2 linked regions of the Homo sapiens genome follow. The protein of the gene in region 1 purifies or fractionates together with the protein of each later gene. This does not show direct contact. Each region holds a gene or a part of one and is shown on either strand. Other genes may lie near its edges.

Region 1 (3,821 bases):
TGATGTATCTCCCACCTTTATCTACCAGATGTTTCTGTTTCTGTAATAGATGATTCAACACGCGTTCCTCTTGGAAAAAGCAAGGACTACATCAATGCTAGTTATATTAGAATAGTCAATTGTGGAGAAGAGTATTTTTATATCGCTACTCAAGGACCACTGCTGAGCACCATAGATGACTTTTGGCAAATGGTGTTGGAAAATAATTCAAATGTTATTGCCATGATAACCAGAGAGATAGAAGGTGGAATTATCAAATGCTACCATTACTGGCCCATTTCTCTGAAGAAGCCATTGGAATTGAAACACTTCCGTGTATTCCTGGAGAACTACCAGATACTTCAATATTTCATCATTCGAATGTTTCAAGTTGTGGAGAAGTCCGTAAGTTTTTAAACATCAGTATTAGATATATGTTTCACCACATAAGCAGATGTCTTAGAACTAGAAGTTAGGAGTAGGATGGAAAATCGATCGATGATACTTCTTAAGTAACTTTTTACTTGTCCCTGGTACCAGAAGCCACCACCACTTCTACTTCTCCTCAACCAGATTCTGTGGAGAAGAAAAAATTGGAAAAGAGAGGTGGGGCAGGGAGAGTGACTGTTGAAGTTGTCTGATTCTGGGTTATACCTGCCTCTGCCAAATGTAGCAGATACGTATTGAGTCCTTAAAGTATGCTAATCACTGGGCCAGGCACTATCAGTACTTACCGAATAGTGGAGAGGTTGGTTACACTCACTGATAGATACCTAACTTACCGTGTTCAGTGATAATGTTGAGATATGTCTTGGGCACTTTGGGGCTCAGAAGGTAAACACTTGGCTTTACTTGGGGTTTTGAGACAGGTTTACTGGAGGAGGTGGCATTTGTTTTGAGAATTATGCAAATGAAAAAGATGGAGGGAGAAAGTAGATGATCAAAATATAAAATAGCATAAGGTGTGTGTAGAGACAAATATAAGTAGTTAAGTGTTTCTGAAATGTAAAAGTTCAGTGCCAGGGAGTAATAAAAGATGAGATGAGGTTCTCAAAAGTAAGCAGGGGCCAGCTAGAATGTGAAATGTCTTAAATTTCAGCTAAGTAGCATGAACTTTATTATGAAGATAATTGGGAGACATTGAAGAATTTTAGTAAGTGACATGATCAACTACGGCTGTTGGCATGGGGGTGGAAAGCACAGACGCAAGTGTTTTGCAGATAAAATTGGGAGACATATGTGACTTATGACTTATGATTTATAAGTGACAGAGGAGGGGTTGAAAATATATTCAATACAGTAACCACATGTGGATATTTAAGTTTAAATTTAAGTTATTTAAATTTATGTAAAATAACAAATTGAGTTCCTCACCTGCAAGTAGCCACATTTTAGGGCTTATGAGTGGCATGTTGATAGTGGCTACTATATTGCCACTATTTAAGACATTTGCTTCAGTATAGGAAGTTCTGTTGAGAAGCATTGGTCTAGAATAATTCATGGATTCCTTGGTCTAATAGACTTAGAAAACAGAAAAGGAATGGTTTATAGGAGAAAGCAATGAGTTAGATTGCTCTAGTGGATTCAGTTGGCAGGTAGGTGATACATGTGTTAACACGAGTGAAGGGAATAGGAGTTGAACAGGAAACTTGCAGAGAATGGTGAGTTTTGGAGTCATCACCAAAGAAGTTGATTGGAGCACAATCACCAGGAAAAGGGTTGCTGAGTGATGCTGAGGTTTGACCCATACATTTGTAGTAGCAACAAAATATGTGATTATGTGTATTTTTCTAGCAGTATAACATTGAGATCCCTGAATACAGGTTATGGGACTGATCCAGAGAGAGAGATTAATTTTAAGGAGTTGGTTCAAGTGATTGTGGAGGGTTGGCAAATCTGCAGGGTGGGAAAGTAGGCTGAAGACCCAGGGAAGAATTGGAGTTTGAGTCCAAAAGCAATCTGCTGGTAGAATTCCTTCTTGCTCATGGGAGGTCAGTTTTTGTTCTCTTAAGGCCTTCAGCTGATTAGATGAAGCCAACCCACTTTATGGAGAATAACCTGCTTTACTCAAATTCTACCAATTTAAATGTTAATCTCACCTAAAAAATACCTTCACAGAGGCACAAAATAATATTTGGCCTAGTATCTGGATACCAGGGCTCAGCCAAGTTGACACATAAAATTAACTATCACAAATTTCAGTCGACACTGTGGATTAGAATAGAGCTCTGAGCACTAGCATCTTTATTCAGAAAGCTTAGGAAAAAGAGGTGCATTCGGGAGAAGCATAGGAGAAGTGAGAAACTCATTTTGAGTTCTTCCATTAGGGTCCCATGTGTGATAAAATAAGGGCCCCACACTGAGGAAAGGGTCATGATCCCTTTGGATGAGATATAGGTAAATTCAAAGTGCTTTATCTGACAATGCTGGGAAGAGTTTCATGACTCCACTTCAAGGGGGCTCAGCACAATAGTGGGACCCACAATCTACTCTCATGGTCATTGACTACCCTGTCTTCATCGCTGGAAGAGATCGGTGCCTCTCTTGTCAGACACCTATATGTCTTAATTAAATTTCATATGTCATTTCTAAACTAAGATACTTTGCCTTTTGGTCTTATTCCTAACATGACAGTCCATCTCTCACTCTAAGCATTTTGAAATCTTGGTTTTCCTGTAGCCTCATGGTACAGAAGAATGATGGTAGATTAGAATTCAAGACACCTACATTACAGTTCCAGCTCTAAACGTGTGAACCTTCTGACCTAGCATACATCTCTCGTCCCCCTCATCCTTAAATTTTCATCTGTAAAATGGAGATAAAATGGTGCCTATCTCACATGGTTGATGTGAAGATTAAAGGAGAGAATTCATGTGAAGCCCCTAGCATAGTAACTGCCACATAGCAAGTGCTTAATTTTTGTTACCTGTTAATACTGGTATTTTTATTGTTGTTACTGTGCTCTCCTTTGTAAAATGGAGAAAACCTCTATTCCTAGCAACTTCCAGAATTCTTATAAACATCAAAAAGAGGTTTGAGTACTTTTTGAAAGTTCTATATAATACCAAGGTAATACCATATAGCCATTATTATTATCATTTGAATATTAGAAGTTGGCGTGAGGTCTCTAATATAAGAAATCAATAAATGTCTTTCTCGCTCTGTTTCTTTCTCTAACAGACGGGAACTAGTCACTCTGTAAAACAGTTGCAGTTCACCAAGTGGCCAGACCATGGCACTCCTGCCTCAGCAGATAGCTTCATAAAATATATTCGTTATGCAAGGAAGAGCCACCTTACAGGACCCATGGTTGTTCACTGCAGTGCCGGCATAGGCCGGACAGGGGTGTTCCTATGTGTGGATGTCGTGTTCTGTGCCATCGTAAAGAACTGTTCAGTAAGTGTGTGAATCAAGCAGATACACTGATGCTGTTGGTGTTTACACACTACATTTAATAGCCTGATCATTTGGAAGACTAATATTTGGTCTTCAAAAGCAACTTAGTAAATCAAAAGCACATGAGCTTTGGATACCTGATTCTCACCGAACTTGCTGCAGGTTCCTGGGGGTGTTTGTGAGGATTAAAGTATGTATTGTAAATAATGGCTTAGGACAGTGTCTGGAACATAATAGATACACAGAAAATGTGAGTTCCATTTCCTTTTCCTTCCCTGTATCTTACACGGGGTGTTTAGACTCTTACTAGAGAATGTTGATGGAATGTGCCTGTTTTTAATGAATATAAGTGACAAGCACATAAGAATGTGAGAAAAAATGTAGACTTCTGAGTTAATGAGGGGTCCCTGTTTGACTGCCTGTTTTGCCACATACTTTAGATTTTG
Region 2 (4,554 bases), on another chromosome or scaffold:
CTGAAATGGAAAGTGCAGCTGGTGATTCTGAGTAGTATATTTTATGAATTGATGAGCAGGGAATTTCTAGGTATCACAGAGCAATCAGCAGCTGAGGAGAGAGCGACAAAACCAGGACTCTGACAGGGCTTTTTGGAAACTTAATTTTTGGAGCAATCAGCAGCTGAGGAGAGAGCTACCAAACCAGGACCCTGACAGGGCTTTTTGGAAACTTAATTTTTTATTGTCAAATTATACAGACAAAAATGAAAGTAAAGGTAGTGAGGAGTACCACACACCTTTACTTAGAAGGATAAATAAAGGACACCTTTGTAGGGAGAAAAAAAAAGATATAGGACGAAAAGTAAACATGGCAAGGTAGACTCAGAATACAAAATTTCAACAAATAAGTGCGAGAAAAAGAATGAGAAAGAATGAGTATTGGAATATTACAGATAAAAATCCTTGGTGAGAAAGAACACTCTGATGAAACAGGTGACATAATTACTGAGTAAAAGCAGAAGACCAATCAAGGCAATTGAGGCTTGGACAGGTATTACAAATTATCTTAGATGAATGTATAATTGTGGCCATTTAATTATCAGTGATGACAATTACAATATTTATTAGAAGAAATAAAGTAGAGGATGAATTCTATGGAATATTCTGGAGAAAGTGGAGGTCTTAGCTATATGACATCGTGTGGCTCACTTAGGGAACCATATATTCAGTTTGTTCAGGTCTAGAAATTCCTTGGTGGTTTCTGAGTTCAGTTTTGCTTTAATAAACCCTAAAGATATTTTTAAAATACAAATATTTTAGCTTGCCTGTGTTGTATAGCACCAAGGCTTGCCTGAGTGTAGTGAGATTCACAGAAGTTTGGACAATTCTTGTAGCCTGAGCAGGCTGCCAGCACCTTTCTCTCATATATGTGTGCCTGGGAGTGTGCTGTCCTCACACATCTCACAGATAAGCAAGACCATCTCTGTTACATGAAAAATTTAGCTAAATGTGAAAATATCCACGCACACACATCATGAGAGATGGAAAGAGGCTATCAAAACAGTCAGAGATATTGACCATCTTCACTGTTAGCTGTAGGATCAGTGTCCACCCCCCGACACACCCACACAAACTCACATACACAGAAATGAAAAGCACAGTGAAAAGCAGAATAGCAGTCTTTCCAAACAGATTGAAAACCAAAAGATGTCTAAAGTTCAATCCTGACACTGTGCCGACTGCTTGGACACAGTTCCGTCAAAACATTTGTCCAAGTCATAGTTGTGCCTTTTAGGAATTAGACACAAACAATATCCTACCCAACCCTTCCTGCTGAGCTAGAGTCCCAAAAGAAATGAGGGATACACTTGACCTGAAGTAAGCAAAGCAGAAGCCAGTCTCTGAGGCGAGGAGGCCCACCTGGTAGGGAGCTCAAATGCACCATTGTCCTGCTTGTCTTTATAAAGGGAGCTGACACGTTTCTCCCAGCACAAAGTTGGGAGTGACACCAGAGCCTCCTGCAAGATGCTTCTGATTCTGCTGTCAGTGGCCCTGCTGGCCTTCAGCTCAGCTCAGGATTTAAATGAAGGTAAGATGAATTGGGGGAAGATATTGTGACTCTGATTGGGGTTTACAGGCAAATGCTATAGAGGAGGAAAGTGGAGGGAAGAGAGGAGGATGAGAAAACAGATGGGACTGCAGAGTTCTCATGCTGAGGATCAGAAGATCTATTGTACCTCCATTCCTCATCAAGGCCTCATAGTTTATTTGTTGCACAAATAGAATCCAATAAAGAATTCGTACTAGGGGTGTGAGAGAGTGAGATTTGCATTATATAGAGACATGGGACTGCTGTGAAGGATGTGGAGAATGCAAGACAGATTCAGGGAAGTACAGCTGTGAAGATCCTGTACTGATCCCAGTAGACAGGGATGATGGTGGCCTTGCTGTACAGTGGATGAGCATTAATGAAGGAGATAAACACATGTCAGAGCTACTGCCGAGGCAGAGAATTGGGTAAACACTTGTCTCTGTCTACATAGAGTTAGAGAATAACCAGAGTGAAACATTGTCATTTTTCTGTCTCCTGAATGTAGTATTTCAATGTGCTGGGAATGGCATGCGTAAGATTATATCCAAGTGGCTATGTCTGGTGGCTCCTGTTGAGAAGGCTTGCAAACATAAACAACATATTTACAGATGAAAGAGGGCAGAAGAATCCCCAAATATGTCATTGAAATACTCAGAGCAGTTTAACTAAATAAGCGCTAAGGGTTTACAGGCAAATGCTATAGAGGAGGAAAGTGGAGGGAAGAGAGGAGGATGAGAAAACAGATGGGACTGCAGAATTTTCATGCCGAGGATCAGAAGACCTATTGTATCTTCATTCCTCATCAAGGCTTGGGGAATCAAAAGAGGACAAACAGGGGCCCTTCTATGTTGAGTTCCTGGTTGACGCTCAGTGTAGTAACAATACTGCTTTCCCTTACATCTTCTTCCACTTCCAGTAGCATCAGAGAGTGGCTGATGAGATCACAAAGGGGATGCACAGGGTGTGATCAGAGGTCCTTTATCCTCGTAGAACACTATGAGCCTTGAATGATTCAGGAAGTAACTTTTCCCATCATCCTGTACTTCTTTTCTAGATGTCAGCCAGGAAGATGTTCCCCTCGTAATATCAGGTAAATCCCAATAAATTCTCAGTAAACTCTGTCTCCATTTTTCCCTGAAAAATTGATGAGTTCTCCAGTGTCTTCTTATCACCATTTTCTTGTCAGGAATTGGCTAATACCAATGCCCCAAAGATACAAACAGTTTTCTCCCAACCTTGATTCTGGGGACCATGAGTAAAGAAATTCAATTTTTCATCACCCTTATGTGGATTAAGAGGAGTTCTAATTAGGAAGCCTTGGGAAGGGGGGAGGTTGGGAGTTGAGAGGCAGGTCAGGCAGAGAGGGGCCGGCCGTGTGGTGAAGACAGAGAGGTATGAAGACAGGAGGGTTTTCCAGCATGAGCTCAGCTCTTCTTGTTTCAACTCACACAGATGGAGGAGACTCTGAGCAGTTCCTAGATGAGGAGCGTCAGGGACCACCTTTGGGAGGACAGCAATCTCAACCCTCTGCTGGTGATGGGAACCAGGATGATGGCCCTCAGCAGGGACCACCCCAACAAGGAGGCCAGCAGCAACAAGGTCCACCACCTCCTCAGGGAAAGCCACAAGGACCACCCCAACAAGGAGGCCAGCAGCAACAAGGTCCACCACCTCCTCAGGGAAAGCCACAAGGACCACCCCAACAGGGAGGCCATCCCCCTCCTCCTCAAGGAAGGCCACAAGGACCACCCCAACAGGGAGGCCATCCCCGTCCTCCTCGAGGAAGGCCACAAGGACCACCCCAACAGGGAGGCCATCAGCAAGGTCCTCCCCCACCTCCTCCTGGAAAGCCCCAGGGACCACCTCCCCAAGGGGGCCGCCCACAAGGACCTCCACAGGGGCAGTCTCCTCAGTAATCTAGGATTCAATGACAGGTACGATTCCAGTTTATTATCCATCAAAGGCTCCAACTGCTACAGTTCTCCAACTTCATTGTGCCAATGAATCCTCTGAAAACCTGTTAATATTGCCCTGTCCTGGAACACATTTCTAAAAATTGTTATTCAGATATTCTTGTATAGAGTATCAAGACCCTGTGACCCTGTGTTTTACAGAAGCTCTTGAAGGCAATTCTGATTTTGAGAATCACTATCTTCAAATTACATGTCTTAAGTAGGGTTGACAATGAGGACATAGAACCATGTTCCCCCTTTGGCTCTCTCTATTTTCTTTCCTCAAACTCAGACTCCCATTTAAAGTTTTCACCTGAACATGCTTTGCTCAGTCCTGCCTCACATCAGGCTTTCAGGTCCAGTATTCCTGCTAAGTGGTCCTTGAACTTTCAGTTGTAAAATGGTATCTCATTTTTAGTATACTTACATTTAAAGTCATACATGCTTAAGCTAACAAAAACTAATCTCACTGAACCGAAATGTACAGAGCTAAATAGTAAGAGCCTAACTCATCTTTCCTCCCTTCTATCCTTCTCAAAACCCCCACCTTTTACTCTTTGGAATCTACTTTTTGAAATATATATTGCTACATAAATATATATAATGCTTTTATTACAAGCACTTATACCATACTGTATATTCAGATTTGTGTCTTACTCACTGGAAAAATTTATTGTTTAGAAAACTTTCTCATGAGTTCATTTAGATCTCTTCAGTGTTTATTGGTTAGTTTGTTTTTACAATTGTATACTATTCTATTGTTTGGTTGTTCCGTAATCTATTTAACCAATCCCTGTCACTGGATATTAAGGCTGGATTCACATTCTCACTATTATATGATATGTTGCAGTGCCCATCTTTGTAAAAATAGCCCTTACATAACCAACAGCAGCAAAGCATGAACACATAACAATAATTGTTTCTCTTTCTCATCTAAGCAACACTTTAAATCACATTATGTGCAATGGCTTAAAGAGTGAACAAAGAAAATATTACTAAGGAGAAGGGGGCTGTAGAAGGGATAGAGGG

Evidence for each region.
Region 2: the proteins of PTPN20 (region 1) and PRH1 purify together in Homo sapiens (affinity purification with mass spectrometry, with the first as the bait; one large-scale study listed by BioGRID). This does not show direct contact.

What each region holds. Positions count from the first base shown.
Region 1 is NC_000010.11:46,984,181-46,988,001, forward strand, and holds part of PTPN20 (tyrosine-protein phosphatase non-receptor type 20), read left to right. Parts: intron 1-49; coding exon 50-384; intron 385-3,159; coding exon 3,160-3,375; intron 3,376-3,821. UniProt on the Homo sapiens protein: Tyrosine-protein phosphatase targeted to sites of actin polymerization in response of varied extracellular stimuli. Has tyrosine phosphatase activity towards various tyrosyl phosphorylated substrates.
Region 2 is NC_000012.12:10,881,170-10,885,723, reverse strand, and holds the start of PRH1 (salivary acidic proline-rich phosphoprotein 1/2 isoform a preproprotein), read left to right. Parts: upstream 1-1,468; 5' UTR 1,469-1,506; coding exon 1,507-1,570; intron 1,571-2,627; coding exon 2,628-2,663; intron 2,664-3,025; coding exon 3,026-3,489; 3' UTR 3,490-3,507; intron 3,508-4,554. UniProt on the Homo sapiens protein: PRP's act as highly potent inhibitors of crystal growth of calcium phosphates. They provide a protective and reparative environment for dental enamel which is important for the integrity of the teeth.